4 separate regions of the Homo sapiens genome follow, and regions 2, 3 and 4 are each reported to be linked to region 1. Evidence: microRNA targets listed by miRTarBase, many of them from high-throughput screens and not tested one by one. Region 1 holds a microRNA gene; each other region holds the end of a gene's coding sequence.

The links. The annotated mature microRNA hsa-miR-548c-3p reads CAAAAAUCUCAAUUACUUUUGC and lies in region 1 at 1,985-2,006, shown strand. An mRNA with a match to its seed (bases 2 to 7 or 8) in the 3' UTR can be bound and repressed. Matches are read on the target gene's strand: a 7mer-m8 pairs with bases 2 to 8, a 7mer-A1 pairs with bases 2 to 7 and ends in A, and an 8mer does both.
Region 2: miRTarBase lists CEP20 as a target of hsa-miR-548c-3p. Seed matches in the 3' UTR shown: 7mer-A1 at 2,025-2,031, 7mer-m8 at 1,647-1,653, 7mer-A1 at 1,528-1,534, 7mer-A1 at 1,456-1,462, 7mer-A1 at 1,158-1,164 and 7mer-A1 at 1,034-1,040.
Region 3: miRTarBase lists HEPH as a target of hsa-miR-548c-3p. The part of its 3' UTR that is shown has no 7-base or 8-base seed match.
Region 4: miRTarBase lists RPL32 as a target of hsa-miR-548c-3p. Seed matches in the 3' UTR shown: 7mer-m8 at 1,068-1,074.

The regions. Positions count from the first base shown.
Region 1 is chr12:64,620,585-64,623,698 of GRCh38, forward strand. It overlaps MIR548C (microRNA 548c), which reads left to right and starts at 1,925; the gene lies at 1,925-2,021. The region is part of intron 1 of RASSF3 (Ras association domain family member 3); the gene reads left to right. MIR548Z (microRNA 548z) reads right to left here and starts at 2,021; the gene lies at 1,925-2,021. RefSeq lists an enhancer at 847-1,006.
Region 2 is chr16:15,865,021-15,868,134 of GRCh38, forward strand. CEP20 (centrosomal protein 20) reads right to left here. Exons shown (of 5, transcript NM_144600.4): 5 at 699-2,496. The coding sequence ends at 2,420. Among named protein-coding and RNA genes, the nearest start is that of MYH11, 9.6 kb to the left of the region's middle.
Region 3 is chrX:66,266,042-66,269,155 of GRCh38, reverse strand. It overlaps HEPH (hephaestin), which reads right to left. Exons shown (of 21, transcript NM_001367233.3): 21 at 1,767-2,716. The coding sequence ends at 2,484. Among named protein-coding and RNA genes, the nearest start is that of HEPH, 100 kb to the right of the region's middle.
Region 4 is chr3:12,833,373-12,836,486 of GRCh38, reverse strand. It overlaps RPL32 (ribosomal protein L32), which reads left to right. Exons shown (of 4, transcript NM_000994.4): 4 at 264-2,002. The coding sequence ends at 393. It overlaps CAND2 (cullin associated and neddylation dissociated 2 (putative)), which reads right to left. Exons shown (of 15, transcript NM_001162499.2): 15 at 1,684-2,732. The coding sequence ends at 2,505. Among named protein-coding and RNA genes, the nearest start is that of SNORA7A, 5.5 kb to the left of the region's middle.

The sequences.
Region 1 (3,114 bases):
TGTCATTTTGTTGTCTACATTGTATTTTATTGAATTGGCGTTATTCCCAAATATTGGAAAATGTGGAGGTTTCTAATTTTTGCTACTGTAAATAGCACTAATAAATACCTTGAGCATGAAACCTTTTCCATTATGGATTAATTTTATAGGATAGTTGTACAAAAATGGAATTTTACTAATTATGAGGGTGTGACTTTTTATGATTCTAGTTATATATTGCCAATTTATGTCTATTTTTAAGTTTCATTACACCCTTACTTCCATTGGATATAGTCATTAAAATAGAGAAAAAAAACTTCAATAACTAAAGGCACCTTATTGCTATTTAATTTACATTCCTTTATTATTATTTTTTAAATTATTATTTTTTGAGGTGGAGTTTTACTCGTCACCCAGGCTGGAGTGTAATGGCGCGATCTTGGCTTACTGCAACCTCCGCCTCCCAGGTTCAAGAGATTCTCCTGCCTCAGCCTCCCAAGTAGCTGGGATTACAGGCGCCTGCCACTACGCCCTGCTAATTTTTGTATTTTTAGTAGAGATGGGGTTTCACCATGTTGGCCAGGCTGGTCTCAAACTCCTGACCTCAGGTGGTCCACCCACCTCGGCCTCCCAAAGTGCTGAGATTACAGACGTGAGGCACTGCGCCTGGCACATTCCTTTAATTAACTGTGAATTTAATACTTTTTAAATACTTCTGAGTAAATCTCCCTTGTGTGAGAATTGTCCATGCATGACCTTTGCCCATTTGTCTATTAGGTAGGCAAAATCTTGAGAGAGCACTGCTTGAGTCTGTGCATTTTTAGCTTGGTAGATGGTTCTGCTTTTTTGAGGTCAGCTGAACTTCAGGGTTTTTTTTGACTTACACTGTTTGTACCAAAAGGATATTACATATTCAGGCTTTCATTTTTTTAAGATGGAGTTTCGGTCATGTTGCCCAGGCTGGAGAGCAATGGTGCGAACTTGGCTCACTGCAACCTCCGCCTCCCAGGTTCAAGTGATTCTCCTGCTTCATCCTCCCAAGTAGCTGGGATTATGGGCATGCGCCACTATGCGCGGCTAATTTTTGTATTTTTAGTAGAGACAGGATTGATCAGGCTGGATGGTCTCGAACTCCTGATCTCCGGTAATCTACCCGCCTGGGCCTCCCAAAGTGCTGGGATTATAGGCGTGAGCCACCGTGCCCGGCCCAGGCATTTTGAAATACTTCAGAATGTGTTTCAGGCTGACATCACTGAAACTCAGAAAAATACTTATTACTCCTGTAGTTACAACATGGGAAAGGCATTGCTAAGAAAGCATCACCATAAATAAACCCGTGGGATTCAGAAGGTGGGGAGTTGGGTGATGTGTTTTCTACTAACCATGTGTTTTAAAAAAAAGGGTGACTAGAAGTTCCTGTTTATCTTTGAATTTCAATAAATTTAGGGCTTGTTTTCCAACCACTCTGGTAGAATTTAGAAGAACCTAACTTATTTATTTTTATCTTTTTGACAGTCTTGCTCTGTCACCAGGCTGGAGTGCAGTGGCGCGATCTTGGCTCACTGCAATCTCTGCCTCCCAGATTCAAGCTATTTTCCTGCCTCAGCCTCCTGAGTAGTTGGGATTACAGGCATGCACCACCATGTCCAGCTATTTTTTTTTTTTTTTTTGTATTTTTAGTAGAGTCAGGGTTTCACCATGTTGGTCAGGCTGGTGTCAAACTCCTGAGCTCGTTATCCGCCTGCCTTGGCCTCCCAAAGTGTTGGGATTACAGGTGTGAGCCACCGTGCCTGGCCAGTCCTAACTTATTTTGTAAGTATACTAGGTATTGAAAAAAGGATGGTAGGACAAACTGCTGGAAACCTTACCCACCAAAGATAATTTATACTGTTTACTTATAGGCTTACTGTCTTTTGTTGAAAAATTGCGATGAGAAAGGAATCGGCATTGGCATCTATTAGGTTGGTGCAAAAGTAATTGCGGTTTTTGCCATTACTTTCAGTAGCAAAAATCTCAATTACTTTTGCACCAACTTAATACTTTCAGGCTTGTTGAAGCCTAAGTAGAAAATTGTTGCTTAATCTCTTTTATTCTGATTAACTCCTACTTTAAATTTTTTCTTTCAGAATCTTTTTATCAAGTGAATCTTTTAAAAAGATGTGAAGAGTTACTTCTGACTTTATGATTGATAGATTATGAGCCCTCCTTAATCCCCAATTTCTTAATTCAAACAAGCTTACTGTGAAAATTTTCTTTTTTCTTTCTTTTTTTTTTTGAGATGGAGTCTTGCTCTGTTGCCCAGGCTGTAGTACAGTGGCACGATCTTGGCTCACTGCAACCTCCATCTCCTGAGTTCAAGTGATTCTTCAGTCTCAGCCTCCCCAGTAGCTGGGAATACAGGCGCATACCACCATGCCCAGCTAATTTTTGTATTTTTAGTAGAGACGGGGTTTCACCATGTTGGTCAGGCTGGTCTCGAACCCCTGACCTCAGGTGATCCGCCTGCCTCGGCCTCCCTGAGTGCTGAGATTATAAGCATGAGCCACCGCGCCCGGCCACCGTGAAAATTTTCTACAAATGCTTGTTTCGAGGAATCTTTTTTGATATTTTGCCAGCAAAGTCATAGGAGCAAAATTTTTTTAAATGAAAATAGAAAACAACATAGTTAAATATATCACGTAGGAGGAAAAGTACCAGTACCAAAATTAACTTTAGCATTTCTTAGTGTTTTACAGTTAACAGGGCATTCCAAGGGAATTAAAATTCAGTTGATTTTATTGGACTTTAATTTCAGAGGAACTCTGAGATGAGAAATTTAACTAGCACGTTTATCCGTTTAGGCCTTAAGCAGATGCAGGTTTCATGACATGCCAGAGGTAAATTTAGGGGTACTTGACTGTAGTGAGTAATTTCCCAGCTATGGGAAAATGTAAATATTATGTAGATGGTATAAAGAAACAATATTACGTTTGTCCATTTAAGGTCTGTTTCTGTTTGTTCAGACAGGCTTGTGGATTGCTTTTCTTGCCAGTGTTCCTTTAGGTGGAAGGTACAGCCCTTTCAGATATTTCAGAATTTTATTTTCTTTTATTTTTTTGAGATGGAGTCTCACTCTGTCACCCAGGCTGGAGTGCA
Region 2 (3,114 bases), not on the chromosome of region 1:
TTTCACTTTTATTTTAATAAGATTCCTGAACACCACACAATCCTCGAATCGTGGTTGTTACCAAAAAATCAAGTACCAAGTGGCCGGGAAGCATTGTCCCAAATGCCTTTAAAGGCATATTCTCACAAATGTTCATCTTTCATGTACACTTGGCTTTAAAAGAACACATCAAATTTTACATCAACATAAAGGTATGTGAGTGATACACAAATGTGTTCTTGCACATCATTATAAGGCTATTAGTTTGTTCTGTGCAAGCATATACACTAAGCTTAAATTTATCTTCTTCAAAAGCCACCTCTGCTCCTGCTATGAGGTTTTAGATCACCCAAGTTGTACATTTCCTAAATCCCTCTTCAGTTCCCATTCCCATCCTGTTTTTGTGTAAATCCAAGTTTTCTCCTAAAACTTCTGGAGCATCTCTAGAAGATAAGTTCTCCCGACAATTCCAAGAAACCCACGAGTAAGGTACTTAAATATAACACATTTATGAGAAGGGTTGGCTTGTCCTCTGTGCTTTTCCTTCCTTCCTATAAACATGTGCAGACGGCAGGAAAGTACCCCCGCCTCCACCCCTCAACAGCGAAGCTTCTGAAGATCCCGACGGAAGGCATGGCAGCCATCTCCAATCATTCTTCTGTTTTTGATGTGTGGCTTTTGATGAGAGAACAGTGATATGAACACCCTTTGCACCAAAGTGACTTGCTTATTTTTTTTATTAAATGATACATTGAAAGTATAAAAAGTTGCCGCAGTACAAACAAATTACAGAATAATGCATATAAAAGCGCTATGGACTACACGTGACAATTCTGCTTAACTTCCATCTTGATGATTTTATATCAGTATCCAAAATTATATACTCCAGCATTTTTTCCGAATATAGTCTTACATGATTGCAATTCCTGAGGTAAACTAAGTGTCCACTGCCAACATCCTTGGACGAAAACCAAGTCCCCCGGGAGAATTCAGATATTTATATTCACACATACAATACAACGGAATTCATCAATGTAATCAGATATTGCAGATTTAAAAATGGAAAATGGACTCTTGCAATACTTCTGCATCCATATATAATTTTACCAGCAGGGCCTCCCAAAATGTTGTGTAAGTATAGTTTAAATGGATTTCATTAATAAGTTTCTGCATTTAGATAAAAATTCTTGGCTAATCTGTAAGAAGTGAACACTGACTAGCATTGCCAAACAGAAAATCAAAAGTTTCAACAATTTGCAAAGCAGCACAGAATTGACACCCTAAAGAGGATGCCAATTTTGCTAACTACAGCTCTTACCACTCTTCTCCATGGAAAACCTTTAAGCTAAATGTTGTCAGTGTTTAGGTGTGCAGGCAAAATTTAATTCTGAATATACCATCGAACTTTTGCCAATCAGGAGCTGTCTATCATCATAGTCAGTTGTTTTCAATGAAATGAGCCTGTGGACACTACATTAAAAATACTTCTTTAATAAATATCGAAGTAGCGTATTAGAGATAGCACATACTATTTTTCTATCCCAAGAATAAAAATTGATGTTTGGTAAGAGTTTCGGAGCCCAAACAAGTAGGGGGCTGGCCCTCTTCTGGCTCATCTGTGATTGCACAACCGAGGGCCACACGGAGATTAAACAATGCCATCTTTGAAAAATCCCTTTCTGGTATTTCTCCCAAAGCCTGTCTCTTCATGCTTACTTCACATTCTTTATCTAATAAAATAAACTCTTTGTTTTATTTACAGCAAAATTATTACAGCAAATTTACTTCTCCTCTACCTTTTAATTAAATCTTCCAGTAAGCCAAAGTCTAAGGAAAGAAAAAGTACATTGTTGCCTATTGAAAAGGTAATACAAAGCCCTTTCATTTCCTTACAAACTTTAAGGGCCTTTATAATACTTCCTAAATGGCTGGGCTCAGTGGCTCACACCTGTAATCCCAGCGCTTTGGGAGGCTGGGGCACACAGATCACCTGAGGTCAGGAGTTCAAGACCAGCCTGGCCAGCATGGTGAAACCCCATCTCTACTAAAAATACAAAAACTACTCCGGTGTGGTGGCACAGGCCTGTTTTCCCAGCTACTTGGGAGGCTGAGGCAGGAGAATCACTTGAATCCGGGAGGCAGAGATTGCAGTGAGCCGAGATCGTGCCACTGCACTCCAGTCTGGGTGACAGAGCGAGACTCCATCTCAAAAAAACAAAAAATACTTCGTAAAAACAATACTTTTTTTTTCAAGTCAAATCCAATAAGCTAGATGACAAGAGTTAGCTTTTATTCACAAATGTAGTTAAACATGAGGGGTGTTTTGTAGAAACTCCAATTTCTACAAACATTAGTGGTGCATTTTGGTAACATTGGGACAATAAATAAGTTATTTAATTAATAATACAATTTTAAGACAAAAGATACCCCAAACAAAGCATTATCTGTTGACTGCCTGAGAAACATGAAGATCTTCAATGTTAGTACTTTTCTGTTCCTCCTTTCTTAGGTGGTCATCTGAAATGCACAGAAACCAATGTTAATACTTATCCCAAGTCAAAACACACAGATAGGTAGACATAGCTACAAATATCTTAGGATGTTACATATTTAATATTCTATGAGTACTTTAGATGGTTTAGGACAATGAAAAAAACCCATTATTTTTTAAACACTATTGAAGAAATCAGAGGCCAAGCGTGGTGGCTCACGCCTGTAATCCCAGTACTTTGGGAGGCCGAGGTGGGTGGATCACCTGAGGTCAAGAGTTATAGACTAGTCTGGCCAACATGGTGAAACCCCGTGTCTCCTCAAAATACAAAAATTACCCGGGCGTGGTGGCAGGCGCCTGTAATCCCAGCTACTCGGGAGGCTGAGGCAGGAGAATTGCTTGAACCTGGGAGGCAGAAGTTGCAGTGAGCCAAGATCGTGCCATTTCACTCCAGCCTGGGCAACAAGAGTGAAACTCGGTCTCAAAAAAAAAAAAAAAAAAAAGAAAGAAATCAGAAATGTCTGGCATTAGGGACTCTAATTATTCAAAAGAGTTTCTTGACTTTTTTTTTGAGTAGAGTACAACCTGCAGTAAACCCATGCATAAGTAGTTACAAACCTCTCTCTTACATGTAAGGAATGAAA
Region 3 (3,114 bases), not on the chromosome of region 1:
ATTTGAAATCAGGTAATGTAATTCCCCCAGTTTTCTTTTTCCTCAGGATAGCTGTGGGTATTCTGTGTCTTTTGTGGTTCTGTATGAATTTTAGGATTTTTTTTTTAATTTCTGTGAGGAATGTCATTAGTATTTTGATAGGGATTGTACTGAATCTATAGATTGCTTTGGGTCAGATGGTTGTGTTTTAAACTTAGGTGGTAGCAATGGAGATGGAAACGAATAGCAATGGAGATAGAAACAAATGAATAGGATAAATACATTTTGGAGATAAAACCGAGACTCACTGATGTGTTGACACTGATAATTTCCAGCTTGAGCAACTGAATAGATGGCAATGTCACTTGATTGTCAAAAATAGATACTTGTATCCCTACTTGGAGCAAACTTACCACAAAAATACATTTCTTTCTTAAATACATGGGCTCTGAGTTTCTATTCCTTGACCTGGAGCAGGATTACAAAATAAGAAGAAATGCATTCCATCTCATCTACCTCTCCTAGTCTCTTAGAGTTATAACTGAGACCAAGCTAAGAACCTCCTAGTTGCATGTAAATTATAACCATTAATTGACTGGAATTCCTAGCATGTACTTGGTCTTCATTAACATTCATGTTAACTGCAGGCCAAAACAGTTCTGCTGCTGTTAAATCATTGATTCTGCAATGGCCTAAACACTAACTCTTGGATAACTAGCCATCTAAATCCCCCTTCCACCCACACTTTATTTCTGAGATTCTCAGTAAAGCTCTCCAGAAACCCATTGACCATGGAAAAACAAGAGGAATCATAGCTTCTGGATTGTGTTTTCTCCTCCAAACTTATATCGTAACTGAACACCAGCTCTGTGAGTTTCTACATTTTATCTTCAAGAGATTGCTACCTAGACAGACAGATTGCTGGACAGACAGAAAAGTTGGAATCAATATGGGTAAGGTGGATGGAGATTAGTGGATGTTTCCATGATATATGAGGATGAAATAGGTATTTGGAGTCAAACAGATGAATACATGAATCCCTGCTCAACTTCTACCTGAGGGATCTTGGATGAAGTTACTTAATGTCCATAAGCTTTTGTTCACTCAAATGTATAAATGGATAACATTACTCAAATGTAAAATGACTTGCCCTGAGGTAATCCAAACGCAATCAAGAATTAAAATGCTTTTTAAAGTGTAAAACAGTACATAGTTATCATCTTTTCTCTCCTTGATACCTCTTCTGTTCTCCACTTGCCATGTGGTACAATATTATGGATATTGCAGTGGGGTGGGCCATCTTACCCAATCTAAAATTTATCACTTATCTGTGCTCTCTAACCAATATTTGGCTCAAATTTGCATGTAACAAAGGAATATTGCTGTAAAATACCAGAAAGAATGACTCCATCCTATAAGGAAGCCCCCAAAGTTGCAACTAGACCTTTCACACCACCACTGCCAAAAAGGCCCCATAAGATATGGTCCTACTTCCCCTGGCCCACTGGACAGGTTTGAGTCTCGTCTCAGACTTCTATTTCCCTCTGGCAAATTTTCTTGACACTCAGAAAATTTTTGTCATTTATGCGACAGCTCCTTTTCTAGGGTGGTACCCAGCACTCTTTGATGCTTCCTCTGGAACAGCTTCCTCATCTCTAAAACAAAAACTTGTAGGTTCTACAAAGGCTAGACAAATACATACTATACTCACTCACCCCCTAAGTATTTTCTGTTTCAATCACAGTGACAGAAGCCACAGAGACTGTCAAAAATCACCAAATTCAGTCTTTCAGTGTTCTAACAAGTACTTTAATGGATAGGGTTTGCTGTCTAAAACATGAAGAGGTAACTCAACATTCCTTTCAGTGCCACAGGTTAAGAACTTGGAGAACTGGCTTTCCTGAGGAGCTTCTAGCTCCAGAGGTTGTACATGCTCATGGCAGCAACAACCCATTGACCACTTCTTCAAAGTAGTTCACTGCCAAGGAGAATCAAAATTCAATTTGGATTCCCAATACTCAGCCTACCTTCAATTTCCCATCAAGCCTATATTCTTAGCCTTTAGTTTAAGTGTGGGTTATCTTAACAGCTCACTTGGCCTCAGTTCAAAGTGAAATTTCCTGAGTCCTTGAAAGAAGTAGAAACCCAATCAATGAGTTTTTCTCTTGGTCTCTACTTTGTGAGAAGGATACATTTCTAGAAATTTCAATACCTTCCAAGTGTCAGAAGGAAATATAATGTAGCTGTTGAAATTTGCGATGTAGGATAATAAGGTACTCCCTTAGTGCCAGGTGCCCACGTAGAGCAAAGAAACTAAAGAAAAAGTGAAATCATATTATTTCCATGTAAAATAAATAAAGAAAGAAATATCCAGATAAGCTTGATTGCTCCTTCTGCTTCTCCACCACCCATGCCCCTTTGAGTGTGGGGTTAGTGACTAGTCCATGGCCTGCTGGGAGTGCACTACAGATGTGCTTCCTGAGGATATCTCCAGGCTCCAGATGTTACTGTTTGAAAGACAGAAGCTTGAAGCTGTCATCCAGGATGGACCTCCTATTGCGTCGTAGCTTTCTCTGTCGATGTTGGTACCAAACCACTCCACCAAGAGCCAGAACAACGAGCAGAAGGGTGACACTAATGGCAACCAAAACAGAGGCCAGCATCTCAACATTCTTTATGGGGATCTGCATGCCCAGCATCTTCACATTGCCTTCTTCAATGTCTCTGGGGGGCACTGCTGAAATGGAGAAAAAAAAAATGGGCATCCTGGGATGGGGAGTACTCTAAAAGGTAACTATCTATAGTCATCACCTGAAAAAAACAAGTCAATCCAAATAGGACAGGAGGCCTGTCCTTATCCTTCACAAAACTAGCTGATGAAGACAGATTTAGAGGTTAGAGAATCAAGAAAACATGATGTAACAGCTATAAGGGTCCTTGAGAATCACTGAGGCCCCAGTCCATTCATGGAAAGAGCTAAGACTCAGATTGGGAAGGCCCTTGATACATGTTCTCAAATATCTAAAGGACTGTGATATAAAAAAAAAAGATGAATTTGACTTGTTCTGTATGGCTTCAGAGGGTAGAATTGGAGGCAATAAGGGAAACTTCAGAAAGAAATTTGACTCAGTCATC
Region 4 (3,114 bases), not on the chromosome of region 1:
TTTATCTGTAAAATGGAGGTAATGCCTGGATTACAAGGCTGCTATAAGGATGAGAGGGGACAATGAGGGTACTTTTTAATGAAAGCATTCTTGTCACCACCAGGGAACCATAGTCAGGATTTGGGGGCATGTAGGTGTCATTCCACAGCCACTTACCAAGCAGCCCTCTCTTAGCTTGGTGCTGGGACTCATTGCCTCTCCAATGGAATTTTCCAAGTGTGTTGAGGGCTGTCTTGCTCCTTACCTACTTGATTCTCTTGCAGATCTTACTGTGCCGAGATCGCTCACAATGTTTCCTCCAAGAACCGCAAAGCCATCGTGGAAAGAGCTGCCCAACTGGCCATCAGAGTCACCAACCCCAATGCCAGGCTGCGCAGTGAAGAAAATGAGTAGGCAGCTCATGTGCACGTTTTCTGTTTAAATAAATGTAAAAACTGCCATCTGGCATCTTCCTTCCTTGATTTTAAGTCTTCAGCTTCTTGGCCAACTTAGTTTGCCACAGAGATTGTTCTTTTGCTTAAGCCCCTTTGGAATCTCCCATTTGGAGGGGATTTGTAAAGGACACTCAGTCCTTGAACAGGGGAATGTGGCCTCAAGTGCACAGACTAGCCTTAGTCATCTCCAGTTGAGGCTGGGTATGAGGGGTACAGACTTGGCCCTCACACCAGGTAGGTTCTGAGACACTTGAAGAAGCTTGTGGCTCCCAAGCCACAAGTAGTCATTCTTAGCCTTGCTTTTGTAAAGTTAGGTGACAAGTTATTCCATGTGATGCTTGTGAGAATTGAGAAAATATGCATGGAAATATCCAGATGAATTTCTTACACAGATTCTTACGGGATGCCTAAATTGCATCCTGTAACTTCTGTCCAAAAAGAACAGGATGATGTACAAATTGCTCTTCCAGGTAATCCACCACGGTTAACTGGAAAAGCACTTTCAGTCTCCTATAACCCTCCCACCAGCTGCTGCTTCAGGTATAATGTTACAGCAGTTTGCCAAGGCGGGGACCTAACTGGTGACAATTGAGCCTCTTGACTGGTACTCAGAATTTAGTGACACGTGGTCCTGATTTTTTTTGGAGACGGGGTCTTGCTCTCACCCAGGCTGGGAGTGCAGTGGCACACTGACTACAGCCTTGACCTCCCCAGGCTCAGGTGATCTTCCCACCTCAGCCTTCCAAGTAGCTGGGACTACAGATGCACACCTCCAAACCTGGGTAGTTTTTGAAGTTTTTTTGTAGAGGTGGTCTAGCCATGTTGCCTAGGCTCCCGAACTCCTGAGCTCAAGCAATCCTGCTTCAGCCTCCCAAAGTACTGGGATTACAGGCATCTTCTGTAGTATATAGGTCATGAGGGATATGGGATGTGGTACTTATGAGACAGAAATGCTTACAGGATGTTTTTCTGTAACCATCCTGGTCAACTTAGCAGAAATGCTGCGCTGGGTATAATAAAGCTTTTCTACTTCTAGTCTAGACAGGAATCTTACAGATTGTCTCCTGTTCAAAACCTAGTCATAAATATTTATAATGCAAACTGGTCATTTTTGGGATTTTGTTTTTGAGACTCATTCTGTCACCCCGGCTGGAGTGCAGTGGCTTGATCTTGGCTCCCTGCAACTTCTGCCTCCTGGGTTCAGGCGATTCGATTAACAATTGGAGACGAGTCGTGCAGAGGAAAGAAGTAACTTAGAATCTAATCTTTATTAACCTGGGATATCACAGAAAATACTTGGGCCTGCCACTTGTATTTCTTTGTCCTCAATACTGAACACTAGACACATTTGAAACCTTCCTCAGAAGGAAACAAACCAACTGGTTATGCCTGGGTGGTGGCATGGAAGATGCCCATTGTTGCCCAATTTGCTAATAAGTATTTTGAAATTAGAAATGAAACATGAGGTCCAAGCCTGTCCAGTTCCCTACCCAACCCATTCCTCCTCCCTGGAAAAAAGAAACCCGTATCATCTTCCAAATTTCTGATTCATCACTGCCACTTAAAAATGAACCGTTTTGAATTTTAAAATGTGAATAACTCAAGTATCTTTTCTTTTGAGATGCCCGGCCTGAGCACTAACTTCAGGCATTGCTGAATGCAGTGAAGAAACCAGAGTGGTGTCTGCTGCCTCCTGATCTTTTACAGCTGACAGCACAGCCTATTTCTAAATACTACTAGTTTGTGAGGCAGAGACACCCTCTGAAGGAACCAGACAGACTATGGAGGGGTACAGTGTGAAGTCACTGGAAAACTTCCTCACCCTATTTCTTTGGATGACTGTCCTGAGTTAAGGAAGGGGCCCAACTGTTGGCAGCCTCACAGCTTGGGCTGGGGGCCTTTGAGTTGGGTCCCTGGAGAAGGCACTGTAAGCCCTGACCAGGAGCGACAGGGCCCCCAGTGAGATGGTGGAAGGGCAAAAGTAGAGACCTGCGATGGTGGGATGGGGAGGCCTCGGACTTGGGTGGGCTCCTTTCTCTTAAGCGAGGGCCCACCTTGGTGCTGAGGGGACTAGCTGAGCTCCATTGAGTCTGTGCTGGGGGCTGAAGCGGAATCCTTCTGGATGCTTTCAAAGAGGGCAGCAAGTTCAGGGTTGGATCTGATTTGGGAAGAGAAGTCGGCCATGATGGGGCTTTTCCCCACCTCGGGGATGGTCAGCAGGGCAGCCACTGCCCTCATTGCAGAGCGCTTCAGTTCATCTTGCTTTTCAAACTCCTGCTTCACAGAACCAGCTTTGACCTAAAGTAGGAAACAGCAGAAGCAGCCATCCTTTATTGAGCCTGGCCCACACCACTGCCTCCTCACTGGTCTTTGGCTTCCTCTCTGCCCCATCATCTTCCCCAACATAAATCCCTGCTGCGAGGTCTCCTGAGGCTTCTGTCTCACCAGCTATTTCCTAACTCCACCTCTGGGCTTTTGCACTGGCTAGTTTCCCCACAGAGGTTCTTTGCCATTCAAATCAGCTTGAGTACAGCCTGAGGGGCCTCTGAGCAGCCAATCTGAAGTGCTCGCTTTTTGTTAATTGACAGTGGCAAGTACTGTGTTCCCATACTTACCTCCTACAGACTGCAGGGATCCAGCCTATATTTGCTGTGCTTAAAACCAGCTCTTAGCACCATAT